4 linked regions of the Homo sapiens genome follow. The protein of the gene in region 1 purifies or fractionates together with the protein of each later gene. This does not show direct contact. Each region holds a gene or a part of one and is shown in the gene's direction. Other genes may lie near its edges.

Region 1 (5,008 bases):
TCTAATTTTGATGGCCAGTTTTCCCAACAAGTAAATTACTTTGCACTGTTGTCTGTAATGTTTATGTCGTTTTGTGTATTGAGAACCAGCTAGAACGCATTATAGTAGTCCAGCTGGATATGACAAATGTGTACATCACTGTGGCAGAATCTTAATTTGGAAGAAAGTATGCAGCCTTCAAGCCAGCTGGAGATGGAAGATGGCATTTCCAGCCACAGTAGCTGTTAGAAGTCCAGAAGCAACAGAGTCCAGTAACACCACAAAGCTGTTTATGTTTGGTGGGTATGATGTCCCGATTGCCAGCGAAACAGCACTTCTCCCTATTTACTCTAAATACTTCTGCCTATCAGCATCACTTTTGTCTTGCCTGGATTGAATTTCCGCCAGCTAGATTTTATCCAAGTTCTTGATTCTGGCAAGCTTGGAGGCAGCTAGCAGTAATGCAAGGGATTTGACACAAAGAAGATATAGAGTAACGGGACTTTTGTGTACTGGTAGCAGTTAAGGCCAAAACAACCCAAATTCTCCCTCTGATTCACATTTCAAAGGAGGCCCCAAAAGACTGAGCAGCTATAAATTTGAGGCTCTCTAGGAAGCAATAGTTTCTCTGTGAGAGTGTGGAATAATTTTTGTGTGCATCATTTACATGTATTATCAGTTCCAAAACTAAGATATGGTGGACAATGAGACGGAAGCATTAAGTTTGGTAGAATAATCTATATTGAGGTGGTGGTCATTGACAAATGTTTATCTTACAGCAGCAAAGTGTGATAAGACTGTAGAAGGGGAACACATGGATTTGAGGTCCATCTTGGCTTCTTACTATATGCGTTACTTTGGGCCAAATTACTGAAGTTCCCTGATGCTACATTTACCTGTGAAAATGGACATCATAAAATTTCTCACAGTATTTTAGTCAACATCAAATCAGAAATAGTGTTTATGAAAAAGCTTATAAATCAGAGCTATTTGATATGATAATGGTGTTGACTTTTGTAACCATTCATCTGGTTACATTTCTGTGTAAATTTAAGTTTGAGAGATTGAGGTAAATTCCCCATGTCGCAATTGAGATATACTTCTTAAAGTCCCTAGATTATACTGATTTGAAAAAGAAATTACCTCTTTCATCCCAGAACCTAACTAGGATTAGGTAGAGGGTTGGTGTTTAGTAAGCATTGATTACTTGATTGATAGACTAATTGAATTTATTTCTGAAAGTGTCTGGAATAAGCGTTGAAAACACATGACGTATTGAATTGTGTTGCCAGGCGTTAGAGAATGGATGAATGATGAAAATAAGATTTCCAAATTTGCTTTTTTGAAGGCTTAAAATAGCATTTAACTAAGTAATCAAGACTTCTATAAAATGGTCTTGTATTTTCATTCTTTTTCTGTTTCCCCATAGACATTTTCTACTTGATCTATTATTTTAATTTAGGATTCCCACCCCATTTCCTAGCCCCTGCCCGTAATTACAGCAGGCCTTCTGAAAATGACTTTATACATAGGTTTGTGTCCAGCAAGTACCCAAAAACTTATTCATTCATTCACTCATTCATTCAGTTTGAATTTATTGAGTGGCATCTTTGTGCCGGATGCCATGCTAGTGGTGAAAAGATAGGAGAAAAACACAGAGACTGTTTTGTCCTTTCGTGAAGTTGTGTTGTAGTGTTAATTAGTGTTGATAAAAGAATGTCTACTGTAGGCCAGTCATGGTGGCTTACGCCTGTAATCCCAGCACTTTGGGAGGCCGAGGAGGGTGGCTCTCGAGGTCAGGAGATGGAGACCATCCTGGCTAACACGGTAAAACTCCGTCTCTACTAAAAATACAAAAAAATTAGCTGGGTGTGGTGGTGGGAGCCTGTAGTCCCAGTTACTCGGGAGGCTGAGGCAGGAGAATGGCATGAACCTGGGAGGCGGAGCTTGCAGTGAGCTGAGATGGCGCCACTGCACTCCACCCTGGTGACAGAGCGAGACTCCATCTAATAAGAAAGAGAGAAAGAAAAAGAAAGAAAGAAAGAAAGAAAGAAAGAAAGAAAGAAAGAAAGAAAGAAAGAAAGAAAGAAAGAAAGAAAAGAAAGAAAGAAAGAAAGGAGGGAGGGAGGGAGGGAGGGAGGGAGGGAAGGAAGGAAGAAAGGAAGGAAGGAAAGAAGAATGTCTACTGTATACAAGGGACTATTCTAAATACTAGAGTTTCAGCAATAAATATATGCCATTTTATCAATCATTATAATAAAGCAATCCTTAATGGTAAGGGGGTACCCCTGTACTGCCTTGCTCCTCTTTTAGGATGCTAAGTTACAATTTGGCATTGTTACATCTTAGTTATAACTAAGTTACAACTTGGCACACCCATCAATTTAGGCAGTCATGAACTCTGGGAACGAAAGTGATCATATAAACATTTCCATAGTGTCTTAATAATCAAGCTGAACAGCTAAAGAGAGATGCATGTTTCATCCCTGGCCAGTTCAGAACACAATGCATCTGTAGTCCTGGAGACTCCACACACCTTCCATTTACACAGAAGAACCAGAGATGCCATGACTAGTCCACCTAAGAACAGTCCAGTTCTCCCAACATGAAGTTGAGCACCCAAGTCAATCTCCCCAGGAACATTGTATTGTCTGGCAAATTAGGAAAGATAAGAATTTCATCTGCAAAAAAAAAAGTATGAATAAGAAATTAGCTATGTCAATGTGACAATAAATATTCATTGGGTTAAGACATTAACTTTTTGTGGGAAACTGGTTCTTTAAAATTCTTTTTTAACATACAGGTTTTGCCTCCTGATTTACTTTTATCTGAGAGTTGAACTCTGCTGGGTTAAAAAAATCACCATTATATTTAAATAGCTATCTAAGGTTATTATAAAGGGAAGAAAACATTTTCATTAAACTGTACAATTGTGTTGGTAAGCCAGTGCTTTATGGAAATGTCATTGGTTTCTTCACTGATTTCTGTTGGAAAGAAAAAACATATCAAAGAATTTAGAATATGAAAGCATTGAGTTGTATTATTACCAAATTAATTTTATTTCGTATTTCATAAATTAGTTAACAATGTATTAATAGACTACATAGTGAAAACATCCATCCATTTTTAACTTCACAGAGAAAACTTCGAGTGGGGGAGGGGCATGGGTGAGAATTGTTTTATGACTTGTTGCAGTCTCAAATGTAAATATTCACCTCCCACGAATTTCTGTAATTGTGTTTACATATTGGGATCAATATCTTTACAATGTTTTAGGAGAACATATTAAATTTTTAAAATTATATAATTGCTTCAAAGGGAGCTGATGTACTTTCCAGCACCAAAACTGAGAAGATTTCTTAAAAATTCAGCATCTTGATGAGGCTGCTAAAATTGCACAGATATATGTAGTTCCACATTCAAATTGTAAGAATATGTTTAGGAAATAATGACATCATGATCCTTATATGCTTGGACTCAATAACGGCAAAGAAAGCTTGAAAAATATGATTCCACAGTAAAAGTTGACTTAATAGAATAGTGGTTGAAGAAAATTTTGTGGATAGAATATGCTTAGGGATTTTTAATAACAGCATTTGTTGCCTCACTGGTTCTTTTTAAGGAAATCCTTCCTGATTGCTTCAGTCAAATATATTTAAAGCTGATTAAAGGATGGGGTAATAAAATATGAGAATGGCTGAGTTAAAAGAAGACACTGAAACCAGTCTTATTTACATCTATAGCAATTACTTGTTAAATTAGCAGATGATAATAAAGATGTTACAACATCAGGGAAGCCAAAGAATTTCCATTAGGAGACTAAGAGAGCTAGAAAAAAATGGTAAAAAATGAGCAAAAATCTGCTTAGAAAATGTTGTGGGTGACATGGACTGAATTCACTTGAAATTTACTGAGTTCAAATAGTTATTTTTAACCACTTCTTGCCAGAAAATGAATTTAAAATTGGAGAAAATTATAAGCTATAATTATAGTTCAAGAAGGCAGGATTCAGCCTCTAAATTCAACTGCCTGGGATCAAATTCTACTTCTGCCACTTACTCACTTTGTGACCTCAGAGAGGTACCTAAACATCTCTGTGCCTCGGATTTCTGATCTGTAAATGAGTTAATATTGGTACCTATTTCTGGGCTGCTGGGTTAATATATTCAAGTTCCCTAGAACAGCATGCTTAACTACTAGATGCTAAGACGGAAATATCCCTTGGGTAGAGACCATGCTGTATGTGCTTGTGCAGGTGAGGTGTTTGTAACAATAACTCTTCCCAATCATCCATAATAGTTCTAACACTGAATTAGTGCCAGACATTGTTCCAAAAATGTTAACAAATTTCTGACATAAAAGGTTATGGAATATATTTATAGAACTAGAAAATACATAAATTTGTAGGAAAGAACTAAACAATCCAAATGATACATGTGGAAGATTGGCAAATGTTGAGAAGGACCTTTGATAATATCAAAGTCAATATTTCTTATCTGGGAGGCTGATAGAATCACATGAGATGTTTTACTTTTTCTTTAATATCTGAGTTCCTAACATAGACAAAATAAATCATAATCTTTTAGGGGTGTTTCCTAGACATCAGTATTTTTTAAGGCTTTACGGTTGTTTCTAACATGCAGCTAAGATATAGAAACTCTGAAATTTCTTTTCAGCTGCCTTGTAACCACATATTGTAACCAAGGTCTAGGGAGATGAAGTAAATTGCCTAATGCCACAGAAAGCTAATGATGTCCTGCCTAACTTCTTTCATGTCTAAACATGGCTTGAGTTACTCTTTCCTCCAAATCCTTATTGCTATATTAGGACCTAGGGAAATGCACTGTGACAATGATTACACAAAAGATCCACATTTAAAAGAAATTTACTAATCTAAAAGAGAAAATAAAAGAAGGCTAAAGACTCTAATGAATGGATATAAAAATAATTCTGCCCCATATTTCCAAAAAAAAGATATAACAATAAATTTCCCATAACATTAAAAAAACACAAATTTGAGAAAAATTGA
Region 2 (4,961 bases), on another chromosome or scaffold:
ACAGGCCAAAGCACTAAGTGTTTATGTTGTATATCACAGGGAGCACTGAAGGTAATGCTAAAATGTTAAAGAAAAAAACTGACATGTATATAGTGACTCTATTTAAAGACAGAGTCATAGAGACACAAGATAGAAGGCTACTGTGATAGTCTAGGTCTAAGATGACAAATAAACACCTACACCAAGATACTGGACTTACCAAAGTACCAAGAAAGGGATGAACATAAGAAGAAATGAGAAAGAATGGTGATGGTATAGGGCAGGCAGTATTCTGTGGCCTGGAAAAACAAACGAATAAAACAGCCTCCTCTTAAGGAACTGACATTCTAGTCAGAGGGAGATGAATGTTTAAAAACAAACTTGATTACAATACAATATGAAAAGTGTTGAGTACATACAAAAGAAAGTGACTGGTACTAAATGGGGCATATATGTCAAGTGAAGTTCCTCAGAGGAGGTGACATGACTTAAAGGGTGACTACGAATTTGGGTTGGGGAGGAAGCTGTTCTTGGCAGCAGAACAGCATGCTAAGGCTCTAAGTTATAAAAGGGTGTAACTGGGAATTAGGAGTAGTTCAGTATGACTAGAGTTTAGGTAACCTGTGGGTGTGGTATGATACTTTATACCACCATGATTTTTTATTGATTTGATACCCTTAAGGAGAGGTAAAATTCATAGATCAGACAGATAACTGAGCCTAGATAACTAGGAAGTTGGAAGGAGAAAGGGATGGGTTGGTGATGATGAATTTTATTCTGGTCTCCTTCCCTTCCATCAATTCACTAAATATACACTAAGCACCTACCACTCGCAAGGAACTGAACTAGGCACTAGGAACGCATTGAAACAAAGCTTGTGCCCATGTGGAACTTTCATTCTAATGTGGGAGATGGACCATAAATAATCAAATATATCTCAAGTAGTAATAAGTGCTATGAAGAAAATGAAGCAGAGTAAAGAATTAGAGAATGATGAAAGCAGCACAGTTTTAATAATTGAATGGTCATGGGAGGCTTTTCTGAGGATGTAATATTTGAGCCAAAGGCCTGAATGAAGTGTGGGAGCAATCTAAATGGCTATCTGGAGGAGAGTATGCCATGTGGAGAGAAAAGCTGATGAGATGGGAGCTTCAAGAAGCAAAGCGAAGATACAGTTGGGAGGGAGGGAGGGAGAGAGAGAAAACAATGAGAAATGAGATCAGAGAGGTGATCAGGCACCAAAGTATGGTAAGGGCTCTGGATTTAAAGATTATAGAAAGCCTTTGGAGGGTTTGCAAGACATGGTTTTGTTTTAAAAGGATCACTCTACTATATAGGGAAAGACAATGAGTGTGAAAATGCAAACAGGAGACTTTTTAGGAGACTATTGCATTCAGTTAGGTTGAGAGACAGTGTGACTAGCAACAGGCTGGTAGCAGTGGAGGAGGTGAGAAAGTGATTGGACACAGGAGGTATTTGAAAGTTAATAAGCCAATAGAATTTGCTAAAATACATATTGATTGTGATGTTTCACTATAAGCATTATAGTAATGAGGAAGGTGCTATCTTTCTTAAAAATTAAAGAAGCAGATATATAGATATTTAGATATAGATTTTTTTCCCCTTTTTCCAGGTTTGATTACTCAGGAGTTGGAAGTTCAGATGGTAACTCAGAGGAAAGCACACTGGGGAAATGGAGAAAAGATGTTCTTTCTATAATTGATGACTTAGCTGATGGGCCACAGGTGACTGTTTTGTTAAGTATGATGATAATTACTGTAACCTCGTATTTAAGCTGTTTGTTTTGTTTTGTTTTGTTTTTTGAGATGGAGTCTCGTGCTGTCACCCAGCCTGGAGTGCAGTGGCGCAATCTTGGCTCACTGCAAGCTCTGCCTCCCGGGTTCACGGCATCCTCCTGCCTCAGCCTCCCAGGTAGCTGGGACTACAGGCACCCGCCACCACGCCCGGCTAATTGTTCGTATTTTTAGTAGAGATGGGGTTTCACCGTGTTGGCCAGGATGGTCTCGATCTCCTGACCTCGTGATCCGCCCGCCTGGGCCTCCCAAAGTGCTGGGATTACAGGCGTGAGCCACCACACCCGGCCTAAGCTGTTTCTTTAGATATGAAAATGTTTTTATTTAATTTAAATGTTTAATCCATTTTGATATTTGATTTAAAATGATTCTATTTTTACTTTCTAATTTTTTATTGTACATATTTTGTTTTATGTTTATAACCTGTTCTATCTTAAAGACCTAATGTTTTATTTTATTTTATTTTTAGATTCTTGTTGGATCTAGCCTTGGAGGGTGGCTTATGCTTCATGCTGCAATTGCACGACCAGAGAAGGTCGTGGCTCTTATTGGTGTAGCTACAGCTGCAGATACCTTAGTGACAAAGTTTAATCAGCTTCCTGTTGAGGTAAGTCAAAAGTCACTTTTGCCACCTCAATATATTTACCGCTTATACTTCTTCTGCTCCCTCTTTCTTTGAGGGAAGGGGGGACAGAAAACAATAATTCCTTTGACTTACTGTGCTGGCCCAACTTTTGTCTTAGCTGCCTTTCTGTACACAACCTCTTTTCTATCTTTAACTATTTGTCATCTTGTTTAAGATTTCGTTTCTTCATAGTCTCTTCAAATCATTCTGCCAAATATTTGAGACACATTAACAATATCACACTTTGAAGTTTCTTTTTTTTTAGCCACATTTTCTTTATTATTACATTTACTTATTTGAATCATACATCGTGATCTCCTTTTGGTCCTCTTACTTTGTGGCATATGGGGAGTAGTGCCTGTTCTTATGACTATGTTAGAGTGGGCTAATGAACTGAAACTGCAGTCATCCCTTGGTATCTGAAGGGGATTGCTTCCAAGACCTCCCATGGATACCAAAATCCACAGATGGTCAAGTCTCTGAGAAAAAAAATGGTGTAGTATTTGCACATAATCTTGTATAATCTAAATCATTGCCAGATTACTTAAAATACCTAGTACAATGTAAGCGCTATGTAAATTGTTGCTATACTGTATCGTTTAGGGAATACGGACAAGAAAAAAAGACTGTACACGTTCAATACAGAGGTAACCTTTTTTTTCCAGATATTTTTGATACAAAGTTAGTTGAATCCATGGATGCAGAAACCATGAATATGGAGAGCTGACTGTCTTTGTTTTAGCCTAAAAGCAGCCTCAGTTCCTCCCAACAGAACTCTCCAGACAGATATTGTCAGTCAGAGTGACAGAGACACAGAAATTAAAGAAAACAGAGCAGTAGTTAAAAAATATGGTCCCTAGGCTAGCAGCAGCAGCAGCACCTGAGAACTTGTTAGAAACCCAAATTCTTGGGTTTTACCCTGAATCAGAAACTGGGGGTATGGCCCAGCAGTCTGTGTTTTAACAAACCTCTTGTAAAGTTTGAGAACAATGCTTTAGAGAATGGGGGAAGAGGAGAAGGAGGTTCAGAAATTTAAAAAAAAAGAAGAAAAAACGTATGCAGTGTTGAATAGTAGAATGTCATTGATTTGCCTCAAGTTCTGCATTAATACCTGTGCCATATATTAACTAAGTTCATTCTTAGTTCACGTTGTTTTAAGCTCCTTAAGAAATAGCATTGTGTGTGTATTCAGGTTTCTCATATTATTTCCTATCAGAGCTGAAATTACAAAGCTGGTCTTCCTTGAACTTATCTCCTGTTTCTGAATTTTGTTCACTTTCTTGGTGGTTTCTCATACATAGTTGCTCAATGTCTTCATGTTTTTCCCACCTTTGACATTTTGTGGATCTAAATGTGGACTCCTTGCTCCATCCTCTTAACTCAATAATACAGCGCTTCTTGGGTAGGAAATTATCTCAAAGACATAGCAGATTGAAAAGGAGTTGATTTTTGGGGGTTGGGGGTTTATTGTATTTTGTAATTATTGGTAAATGACAAAACCTGTGTACATTTGTTTTGGTTTTGTTTTTATTTGGGGGGGTTTTTAGGGTATCTCTGTTGCCCAGGCTGGAGTGCAGTGGTGCAGTCATTGCTTACTGCAGCCTTGACCCCTCAGACTCAAGAGATCCTCCCACCTCAGCCTCCTGAGTAGCTGGGACCACAAGTGCACACCACTATGCCTGGCTGATTTTTGTATTTTTTGTAGCGATGGGGTCTCGCCATGTTGCCCAGGCCGGTCTTGAACTCCTAGGCTCAAGAGATTCTCCTGCCTTGGACCCCCAAAGTGCTGAGATTAGAGACACAAGCCACTGTGCCTGGCCATGTACATTTCTCTGCGTGTGTGTGTGTTCACATCAGTCAGAGTGAGCATAGGGTAGATACTTTCTAATTGAGAAGATTTATAATCTGCAAATCAAGGCATTTTTTGCTAATACTTACTCAGATAAGCAGTTGTTAACAGAAGCATGTTGAGCCCTTGGTTAACTTAAAAGCATGTATAAGGAAAGAGCACCAACACTAAGACCGCTATCTCTTCTCCACATAAACAGCTAGCCCTAACAATGTCAACGGAGCAGATGTGGAGATTTTTACTATCTTTTATAACCCTGGGAATAGTAAGCCCAGCATTTCTCATTTCTTCTCTAAGAACTTGACCATCCTCTTTAACTGACTCTAATCATTATCACCTTCTTTGGACACTAGAGGGCCTCAGACATGATGCACAGCTGTTGGGAATGTAAGCTTCTGAACCACATTGCCTTGATAAGTTTTGTTGATGTAGAACTTAATATATTGTACATTTTCTTTGGGTAATGTCTTTGCTGTTTCTGAACTTTTTGTTCTTGAGGACTTGAGACATACAACATTTTATAAAGTTAACTTTGTTCTTCAGATGGACCATTTTCATTCAATTCAGTGGCAGGTAGCAGAGCTAGTTGGGGGCCAGGGATGCTTAAAATGAAACTATTATTAATTCAGTGTCGCCTTAATTAGCAAAGCCTCCACTTCAGCTAATAACCAGTGGGACTAAGTTCTATCTGCTG
Region 3 (4,961 bases), on another chromosome or scaffold:
ACACTATTAATAGATTTGAGATTCTAAATTAAATTAATTAAATTCTTTTTTTTTTTTTTGAGACAGAGTCTTGCTGTGTTGCCCAGGCTGAAGTGCAGTAGTGCAGTAGTTGGCTCACTGCAACCTACGCCATCTGGGTTCAAATGATTTTCCTGCCTCAGCTTCTTGAGTAGCCGGGACTATAGGCATGTGCCACCATGCCCAGCTAATTTTTGTATTTTTAGTAGAGATGGGGTTTCACTATGTTGGCCAGGCTGGTCTCGAACGCCTGACCTCAGGTGATCTGCCTGCCTCGACCTCCCAGTGTTAGGATTATAGGTGTGAGCCACCGTGCCTGGCCACTTAATTAAATTCCTATACATAAATGGGACTATTTCTCAACTTCTTACTTGTTGATTTGCTTATTTATGTACCATTTTAATATCTGATAGAGCTAATTCCCACTTGTTGATACAGGAATTTCTTAAGCTGGGGTCTGTGTATATGAGTTTGTGGGAGATGAGGGAAGTCTGTGAATCCAATGAAATACACATTTATAATTGTGGTTGCAATGTGATCCTTTCTGGGGAAGAATCCGTAATTTCATTAGATTCTCAAAAGGATGCATGACTCAATAAATGTTGAACCACAGATCTAGAAGAATAATAGAGGCTTATATCCTTAAGGCAGTCCCTCATGAGTGTTAATCTTTTTAAATCAAATTTTGTTATGAAGTGTGGATATAAGTAATTGCTTGTGCATACGTAGAATAATATCTGGAAAACGCATGAGAAATTGATAACATTGGTTGTCAGAAGATGGGAACTGGTGGTGGTTGAGGAACAAAGGTGGGAGGGAGACTTCGTTACTTTCTTATATTGTTGGAATTTGGAACCTTATGATTGTATTACCTTTTCCAAAAAGTGCATAATATTTTAAAAATTAAGGTGACCAACTGGATAACTCTTCAATAGTGTCTCTAGAATGATCTCTGTGGAAAAGGAACAATTCTTGGTTATTTCTTACTGGCTTTTTTTTTTTTTGAAATGGAGTCTCACTCTGTCGCCCAGGCTGAAGTGCAGTGACACTCTGCAACCTTCGGCTCACTGCAACCTTTGCCTCCTCGGTTCAAGCGATTCTCCTGCCTCAGCCTCCTGAGTAGCTGGGACTACAGTCGCATGCTGCCACGCCTGGCTAGTTTTTTTTTTTTTTTTTTAGACGGAGTCTCGCCTATCTGCCAGGCTGGAGTGCAGTGGTGCAATCTCGGCTCACTGCAACCTCCGCTTCCTGGGTTCAAGCAATTCTTCTGCCTCAGTCTCCCCAGTAACTGGGACTACAGGCGCATACCACCACACCCTGCTAATTTTTGTATTTTTAGTAGAGATGGGGTTTCACCATATTGGCCAGGCTGGTCTCAAACTCCTGACCTTGTGATCCACCCACCTTGGCCTCCCAAAGTGCTGGGACTACAGGCGTGAGCCACCGTGCCCAGCCCTAGTTTTTGTATTTTTAGTGGAGATGGGGTTTCACCATGTTGGCCAGGCTGGCTCAAATTCCAGACCTGTAGTGACTTGTCCACCTCAGCCTCCCAGAGTGTTAGGATTACAGGCATGAGCCACCGCACCTGGCCTCTCTTCCTAGCTTTTTTATATTACTAGACTTAATGCCAGAGTTCTTTGCCAGGTCACCTTCCAAACCACTGCCAATTACATTACTTCTGAATCTCATTTCTTTGCAGAAGTAAAAAATAAACTTGCAAGATGGTTGTATGGATTAAATGAGATAATATATGTAAAACATTTGGCACAAGTGTTAGTTCCTTTTCTCAACATAATTTTTTCTCTTTATAGGGAGTCTGAAGATACAGTATTGCTCGTCCTCAAAGAGATCTACCAAACCCAGGGTATCTTCCTTGATCAGCCTTTACAGTAAAAATGACCCATCTATGGCTGCTTAATGTAAGTTTTAAAATGTCATATATATAGTGTAATTCTTACATATTAACATGTTATAATGAACTATGGAGCCTCAAGCTCTTTTTAAATATACTAGCTGTTGCCTGTCACCAAGATCTAGGCTGCTATTCATTTTTAGAGGGACTGGTAGAAATTCATGGGGAAAAAAACACAGTAGCCCATTTAGAGGAAGATTAGTGTATGTCTGTTTTGCTAGAGATTTTGTCCAATGACACCTGTCATTTTTTAGGATCTAAACTCAGAGTTTTAATGGTTCTGTTATCTAAGAGTTACTGTGGCAACAGTTATGATTTTAATTACCAACCACCCATCCTGAGATTTAAATTACTCAGCCTTTTAGATGTGAAATTACAAAGTCTGTGTATTCGACTCTGGCATTCTCTGTGGTTGCCTTCCAGTTGTGACTGCAGCTCTTCTCCCACTTTCTTCCCTAGACGGACATTGAGGGATCCTTCCCCAGAAAATCCACCTGTTTGTTGCTGCAATTTTCCTCTCCTCAGCTGCGTCATTTCCTGCATGTTGCCTGCCACTTACTCACCACTGGGGTCTTTGGAAGATAATCTTCCTCTTTGGAAATGAATGGAAAAGCAAAAGGCCCTATTACTTTTAACCACTGGCTTCATATAAACACTTGCCATTTTTTTCTGCATAGCTGGGGGTGGTTTGTGTCTTTAATTCTTTGATGATAGTTTATAGTTGCCACACTTTATTGATTAGTACTTGACAGGGTGTAAAGCCTATTTTGGGTTTGATTTGTTTTGGGTGGGGTAGACATGTTTTTAAGGAACTTATTGCTTATCTTTAGAAAATGTTCTAGTTTGGAAACAGATTCTTGAGATTCAGAAGGCATTTTGGAGTACACTTATCTCTTGTTTGTGTTGAACTGAAGGCTAAGTCTCAGTGGACATGGAAAAGACTTTTGGGTGATTTATTTTTGAACCTGCATTTCTTTCTTATGTGTAGTGTATGAAGAAAGACTAGAATGTAGCTTTAAAAAAGTGTTGTTTACTCTCTTAGAACTGACAGACTTATTGCCAGAAATCACTGATGTTCATTGTTTTTGCAACTGTTTGAGCTGCTGTAAGAGTCTAAAGTTGACAAGTTAGTTCATGTTAGGTGCATCTTTATAAAGCAAAGATGTTGTATATCCTAGGCCTCCCTTTTATATTTGATAGAAGTTATTTGCTAATAGCTTCTATTCTTACGTTGAAAATAGTTGTAAAAGCTGATGAACCTGAAATTGTGTAGCCTCTACAGGCTGCTGAGGTTCTAAATAAAACCTTTTAGTGGTGCCTTTATGGTGAAACAGAATTTGTCACCTGCCATTTCTACTTGAGCTAAGGTAGTATTGTGTATCCTCTTTCCTTCTTAGGTATCCATAATCCACAAAGCATATTTAAAAGGCTCTTGGCACGGGCAGCATTGGTTGAGCAGGTAGGTTTGGCTAGGGGGAAATGTTTAACTTGTTCTGAAAGAAAAACTTATGTCTGTAGGGTCCAAGAAACAGCTATTCCAGAGTCAGTGTCAGCTGAGTCTGGAACATATGAAGTGAGGTTTACTTCTAAGAACACAAGTGACTGCACACTAATTTTGTCAAGGCATCTTTTCACTACTTTGCTGTAGATTTTTCTTCTTCATTGGTCAGTTTGTCATTGTCTTTGTAGTTCTCTTTATGATAATCCTTTATACTTGCTCTCAGATTCCACAGGCCTCTGTTTATAGAGTGGCAAAGGCAGGCGAGCTGTGGTTTATTGTTTATAAATTTTTTTATAAATGTTATGGTATTCAAAGCCACTGACATTTAATATTTACTGAAGCCATTCCTTAGACAGCAGTGGTCTTTATCCCTTTCTGGAAAGAAAAGGAAAATGAAGGGTAATTACTGTCACCATGGAGATTGTAGAGGTAAGGTTGGGGTATAGGTCAGGCCTGGCCTTTCTTTGTCATCTGCTTATAGTCTAGTGCTAAGTATGCCACTAAGTTTCAGATATATGGAATACTTTATTTTTTTAAAGGTATATAAACTCTGAGTTATTGAGAATTAAGTATTCACTGTATATTAAGGGGAAGCTTTTGCCAAGTTGTGGTCTTCAAATTTATGTTTACTCTTCCTATTGGCAGAATAGGTGCTATTTAAGAGTAAACCAAAGGATAAGCAGAGGGAGTCCCTATAACCAAAGATGGACAGCATAGCCCTGGATAGCCAGATAAACCACTCTTTGTATTAAGAAATGTTTCTTTCCTAGTGGTGAGGGGTGGGTAACTGTGAAAGAGCTTTATATCTTGTCTATTCATGGTATTATAGCTGTATATTCCCAGGATGATAAGCTTGATTGAAATCCTGTATTTAGTCATATATTATTTGCGCTGCTTCATTTGTATCATGTGCAATCTCTAGACCAACCCTATTTTTAAACTCTGGTACAGCATCATTTTGTACATATTCCCAGCTGCAGAACTAGTATCACTTATCTCAGCAAAAGAGATTGTTTGCATGGAAAGATTAATAGCACTGATTAGATTTCTAATATTTTGCATTTTTGAAATGTTTGTTTTCTACGTGATTATATTTAAAACTTTAGTAAATACTAACATGAAACCATATTGACTAGTGGCCTACTTTTACCTGGACTCACCCGTCTCAAAGTCAAGAAAATCAGTACAGTCACGATTTTCTCTGTCTTTATGTATTACTAAAACAAAAAAATAGGTTTTGGGCAAAGAACTAATATGTAAGTTCTTTCCTGTTGACTGGTATTTTAATTGTCATAGGCAGAATTTAAGTTCAGAATTTAAAGCATGGCAATTATAAGAGACTTTCCTTTGGTATTTATAAATATTAGCCAGTACTATAGATAACAGCAGTTGAATCACTTAGGGCGGATGGGGAATTCAATGTTTTGCTTTACTAAAGTTCCAGCCCCTTAATGTACTTTAAATATTTAAAAAAGCACACATTTACCATTTTATTTGAATATCAGGTTTACTGAAGGAAAAAGATACATT
Region 4 (5,540 bases), on another chromosome or scaffold:
ATTCTGATGAATCAATCTGAAGGGCCCATACTCTACTACTGACCTTTTCGTCTAGTAAACAAGAAATATTTTTAAAGGCAGAATGTGTGTTGGTCACACAGTCTGTTGTTACCTGTAGCCAAAACTATTGTTTGTTGTTGTTGTTTTGAGATGGAGTCTCGCTCTCTTACCCAGGCTGGAGTGCAGTGGCACAATCTCGGCTCACTGAAAACCTCCGCCTCCCGGGTTCAAGAGATTCTCCTGCCTCAGCCTCCCGAGTAGTTGCGACTACAGGTGCGAGCCACCACACCCAGCTAATTTTTGTATTTTTAGTAGAAACGGGGTTTCACCATGTTGGCCAGGATGGTCTCGATCTCTTGACCTTGTGATCTGCCCGCCTCGGCCTCCCGAAATGCTGGTATTACAGGTGTGAGCCACCATGCCTGGCTGGCCAAAACTGTTCTTAACTGAAATGAAAACAGAGAGTCTGGTCTTTCCCAGTACAGAATGCAAAACCTGCCATTTTGTCCTTTCATTACCGTTAGGACCATTGTCCTTTTCTCCCTCTCCCAGCCACTTAATTTGGAGGGAACCATTGCCTGGAGACAGTGAAAGTTTAGTAGAGTAAGAGGCAGAACACTATTCATGTATTGCAGAGCCAATACTACTACACGGTTAGGATACATCATTCAATCACTCAACATTTATTGAGCACTTACTGTATGCTAAGATCTGTGTTAGGCCCTAGAGGTCAAAAAACGAATGAGAACAAGTTCTGTGTTTCAAATGAGTGGGATGGATAATACATAGATAAACACGTAAGGTCACGTTGTGTTATATAAAAAAAAAAGTAGGCAGAGTAAGATCATGTAGGGAGCTATTCTAGACGAAATGGTCAGAGAATAGCAACTATTTCTGAACTTTACACAGAGCCTAATTTGTGACTTTTCCACTTTCTCTGAGAGGTAATAAGGAAATTTTGAACTTATAAAACTTTACTAAATCTCCACATTAATAATCTAAACTCAACGAGGGTAGTAGAGCAACCTTTACTTTGAGGTTTTTTTTTTAGGAAAATTGCTAAATTTCATTGTGAGATTAATCAATACATAACAGCTCACAAACGTGGCATGTCGATAAGGGGACAACTTAAAAGTTAAGAAAATGATGACCAGCTAATGACAGCTATGCAAGATGGTAAAAAACAGAACAGAGAAAAAATGGAAGGTTGAAAAGGAAAATGTAGCAGGACAAGCCGGAGGAAACTTGGGCGTGAGGAACAAGTCATCAAGGCAATTGGAAATTTCTGTGGATATGACAATGATGTCAGGAAACTTTCGGGTGGGGCAGAAACTTGAGTGACAGATGTTGTTCAAAAACAATGTGATTCATGATCTTATTTACAGCAGGAAGAATCAGAGTTCCAGCTATTCCTAACAGCGACACTGCGGAGCTTAGGAGGAGAACTCCTTAGGGGATGTATCAGGTTTAAAACCACAACCCTCATTTTTCTTATCTATGGCTCTTACATGGGCTGGGAATTCTGAAACCTGGGAGAGGCGGTGATCAAAAACCTGGAGGTTAGAAGATTCCAAGTCATTCATTAAAGTCCCGATGCGGCCGGCCCCCAAGATCTCAAAAGGAAATATTGCCGAGTTCCGTTTCCCAGAGCATCTATTTCCCCTCGAGTATTGCAGATGTAATCATAAACACAAGCCAGTTACAGCCACAACTTCATGCTTTAGCGAGAACCCAGTGGCTCCTGCAAAGTCCTTACGCTGCTAGAAACCCCGCCCCCGTTCGTAACTATGGGAACGGCTGACACGCTGAGAGCCGGAGATAACCCTGTTCCGCCCCCTCCCTGACAGATACTGTTTCCCACTGTCTGTCCACATGGGCGCACCGCCTCACTATTGGCCAGGGCTCCAGGACTGTGCCTGGCCTCAGCCAGTAAACGGCCTGTGCACGTGCACGCCGGAGCCTCCCGATTGGCCAACACTCCCTGATCACGCACGGCCTTCCTGCGCCCACCCACGCGTGGGAGCGCCAATGAAATGACTCAGTGACCATCTACAACAAATCAGCAAGAAGCAGGGCTCGCAGCTGACCAATGGCCGCCCGCCGGGGGTGGGCTGTCCCGGCCCTTTTCCAGGCCCAACTGGGTTTGTTAAAGCGACAGGCCTCTCGGCGAGCCGGTGCCCCATCGGGTACCGCACGGCTGCCGCGGCGGCCTTACCCTGCCGCGAGCGCCTGTGACAGCGGCGCCGCTGTGCTCGCGACCCCGGCTCCGGGCCTCTGCCGACCTCAGGGGCAGGAAAGAGTCGCCCGGCGGGATGGGCGGGGAGGCTGGGTGCGCGGCGGCCGTGGGTGCCGAGGGCCGCGTGAAGAGCCTGGGTCTGGTGTTCGAGGACGAGCGCAAGGGCTGCTATTCCAGCGGCGAGACAGTGGCCGGGCACGTGCTGCTGGAGGCGTCCGAGCCGGTGGCCCTGCGCGCGCTGCGCCTGGAGGCCCAGGGGCGCGCCACCGCCGCCTGGGGCCCGAGCACCTGCCCCCGCGCCTCGGCCAGCACCGCGGCCCTGGCTGTCTTCTCGGAGGTGGAGTACCTGAACGTGCGCCTCAGCCTGCGGGAGCCCCCGGCCGGTAAGCGCAGGCGAGCGCCTGGGGTTCCCCCGCCAGGCTGCGGGGCCGGGGAGGGGCTGGGAGGCCGCGCACCCTCGGGATGCCCACCTGGCAGGTGAGATCAGGGCGGGCTTCCGGGGGTGGGGTCCGGCCTACCCTCGCGGGTAAGGAGAGACCGCAAGTCCTGGGTGCGCAGCTCTTCCTGGCGCCCCGCCCCTGGCCCGCCGGGCCTGACCGGGACCAGTGGCTCGGGATTTTCTAGGACCGCGACGGGAGGGGGCCATTGGGTGCGGTGGGAACCTGTGATTGGACAATGGGGGATCCAGAAATCTAGGTCCTGTTCCTTCTGGTCCAAGAAAGGGACGGTGGAACCGGCGGCTATGAGGTTCCATTCTGCGGTGCCCGTGTCCTATGGCCTCCACTCCTCCCTATCCTGCATACGTTCTTGGTTCATGATGAATTAGCAGAAATTTGGTTTGGGGAATAGGGAAGTAGTTTCTGAGGGGTAGGAGTTCAAAGGAAGTGTTTTCCAGACTTGATCATCATGCTTGGTTTCCCTCTTCTGGGGAGCAGGGCAACTTAGTAAGAGTTGTACCTCTACCTGATACTGCTGCTGTTTCCTCCGCATCCTCTTCCTCCCCATCCTCCTCCTCCCCTCCTACCCGCTTCTTCCCCTCTCCCCCACTTCTCTCCACTCAAAATGCCTTTAGAGACAAGAGCATCAGGGCGTGTCGGGATTTCCCTTCCTGCTCACTTTGGTGAAGTCCAGTTCACAGTGTAGACTTTTCCAGAAGTACCCATGTGGGGACACACTACATGAGCGTTTCATTAATATTAGATACCAAAATTGGATCCCTTTAGTCACGAAAATACTAAGAACCATGAGTCTTACTCATTTCATGGATGGAAACTAGTTTAAACTTTTACGTTTTTGCCATGAGCTTTTATCTATCAAATAAAACAATGGTATGCACCTCCTCTCCTTGAAGAGTAAACGCATTATATCTATGTGCTATGTCTTATACAAAATATAATAGAATATGTGGTTTTGCCCTATCCTACTGTGGACACAGTGAACTCCTCGAGGTAAGTGATCATCTGAGTCATCCCAAAATTGTAGTGAGGAAAACTATATTTGGAACCAAAACTGCCTTTTGGATCAATGGGAACAGTGTGTTAGTGATAGTTCTTACTCCTTCATGCACTTTCCTCAGTATGGCTTCCAGGATCAACCCAGGCCCCAGTGGAAGCAGACAATACAATTTGCAAGATGGCCGAATGGAGTCAAGGACCTTGGGAGTGAGACATACATTGATTTTTGTCCAGGACTTTGGACTGTATCTCTGGGCCTATAACTGCTGAGTCAATAGATGTAAAATTAAAAGCAGTTGAACCTGGGATTAGCAATAAAAAACTGCTTTGGTAAAATCTGGGCTAACATTTTTTTTAATTCACAAGTCAGATGTTTATTCGTCACACACACACATATATACACATGTGGAACAGAATGTAAAAACTAGACAATTTGAAAATCTTAAACTTGTTTTAGAATGTATCATAGCACATATTGGCACAATTACATTTTGCTTAAAATCATAGTCTCTTTTAGTTGGGGAAAAAAAATAAGTCACCCCTAATATCTATAGCTTGGAAGAACTTAGCATCTTTACACAGTCTAGATTCTGGGGGTAATTTAATTACAAAACCTGGCTGTGTTTCAATCACCTAAGGAGATTTTTAGAAATCCATATTATGTAGCACTGGGATCTGTTTTCACAAATGCTCTCCAGATAATTCTTTGACATCCTTAATCTAATTCAACTACTTGCTGTCATTGTGATTGATTTTCTTCATATTTTTATTGAGAAACTGTAGTAGAAAACAAGCCAGAATCAGAGAGTTGGTCTCAGTTCTTGGTCACCCACCAGCAGTGTGACCTTATGCAAGTCCCTCACCCTTCCTGAGCCCCAGTCTCTGCCTCTGTAATGGTCTTCTGCATCCCACGGCTCATCAAAACCTTTAATTATGAGCTTTGGCTGTAAGGCCATTAGTGATTGAAACATCTTCCTGTGACTTTGTAGTGCTCAGTATACAAGACAGAAATAATGAGCGGTTGGTGCAGAAGCAGAAATGGGCACATGGTTCAGCTTGTGAACCTTTTACATTAAAAACAAAACTTGAGAAAGAGGAAAAGAAAACAAAGATTGAATTCCAAATATTATAACCCATTTTTATCAGTTTTTCCATTTCTTTTTCCTGTTTATGTTTTGAGATAGTTGAAAGTCTCATTTTAAATGATATAGATCCGATGTCGATTTGTTGCTTAATGAAAGGGGAACTTCATGTCTCTCATTCTCTTCAGTATCCTGGGCAACTGTGTTCCCCACAAATGCCTGCCATGCTCTTCCTCATGCTATTCCCTTATCTAAATTTCCCTTCCTATCTGTCTCCATTCCAGCCCTCAGGTCCTGAAGATGTCGGGCCCACCCATGTTCCTATGTGGGTGCTCTAGGTTCTAGCACTCCATGGTCATTGCTTGTGTACAAGCATGTAATCTCCTTTCCTCCCCCGGTCTCTTTGAGGATTATCTGCGGTGCCTGAAATCTAAGCACTACACATTTTAAACTCAAATGAAATACACATTTCAAAACATTTGTAAATACTTCGTCATGTTCTGTAATCTAGTAATTTCAAATTAGAACTTTAGCCCAGCTCTTTTAGGAGCACTGGGATTGCCTTGAGCCTTTCACTCCACAGCTGTCAGGTCGAGATGCTTCCCTGGTCCCTGCTCTGCTGCTACCTTCCTGAGCACACGTCAGCCACTGGGACCCGCCCTGCCACTGAATTTAACATGATCTCATGCCCCTGTGACTTGTTCTTCACTTTGCCTCCAGTCACCCAACTGTGGAGTATTCAAATTGACTTAAGTGGCAGGTGTGTCA

Evidence for each region.
Region 2: the proteins of IFIH1 (region 1) and ABHD10 purify together in Homo sapiens (co-immunoprecipitation; one large-scale study listed by IntAct). This does not show direct contact.
Region 3: the proteins of IFIH1 (region 1) and DDHD2 purify together in Homo sapiens (co-immunoprecipitation; one large-scale study listed by IntAct). This does not show direct contact.
Region 4: the proteins of IFIH1 (region 1) and ARRDC4 purify together in Homo sapiens (affinity purification with western blotting; one study listed by BioGRID). This does not show direct contact.

What each region holds. Positions count from the first base shown.
Region 1 is NC_000002.12:162,311,487-162,316,494, reverse strand, and holds part of IFIH1 (interferon-induced helicase C domain-containing protein 1), read left to right. Parts: intron 1-5,008.
Region 2 is NC_000003.12:111,984,652-111,989,612, forward strand, and holds part of ABHD10 (palmitoyl-protein thioesterase ABHD10, mitochondrial isoform 1 precursor), read left to right. Parts: intron 1-1,612; coding exon 1,613-1,724; intron 1,725-2,262; coding exon 2,263-2,400; intron 2,401-4,961. UniProt on the Homo sapiens protein: Acts as an acyl-protein thioesterase that hydrolyzes fatty acids from acylated residues in proteins.
Region 3 is NC_000008.11:38,258,211-38,263,171, forward strand, and holds the end of DDHD2 (triacylglycerol hydrolase DDHD2), read left to right. Parts: intron 1-1,829; coding exon 1,830-1,911; 3' UTR 1,912-1,937; intron 1,938-2,353; exon of another isoform or gene 2,354-2,389; 3' UTR 2,390-4,626; downstream 4,627-4,961. UniProt on the Homo sapiens protein: Diacylglycerol (DAG) and triacylglycerol (TAG) lipase required for proper lipid homeostasis in the central nervous system. It cooperates with PNPLA2/ATGL in neuronal TAG catabolism and hydrolyzes sn-1,3 DAG downstream of PNPLA2/ATGL.
Region 4 is NC_000015.10:97,958,550-97,964,089, forward strand, and holds the start of ARRDC4 (arrestin domain-containing protein 4), read left to right. Parts: upstream 1-2,153; 5' UTR 2,154-2,312; coding exon 2,313-2,619; intron 2,620-5,540. UniProt on the Homo sapiens protein: Functions as an adapter recruiting ubiquitin-protein ligases to their specific substrates. Plays a role in endocytosis of activated G protein-coupled receptors (GPCRs).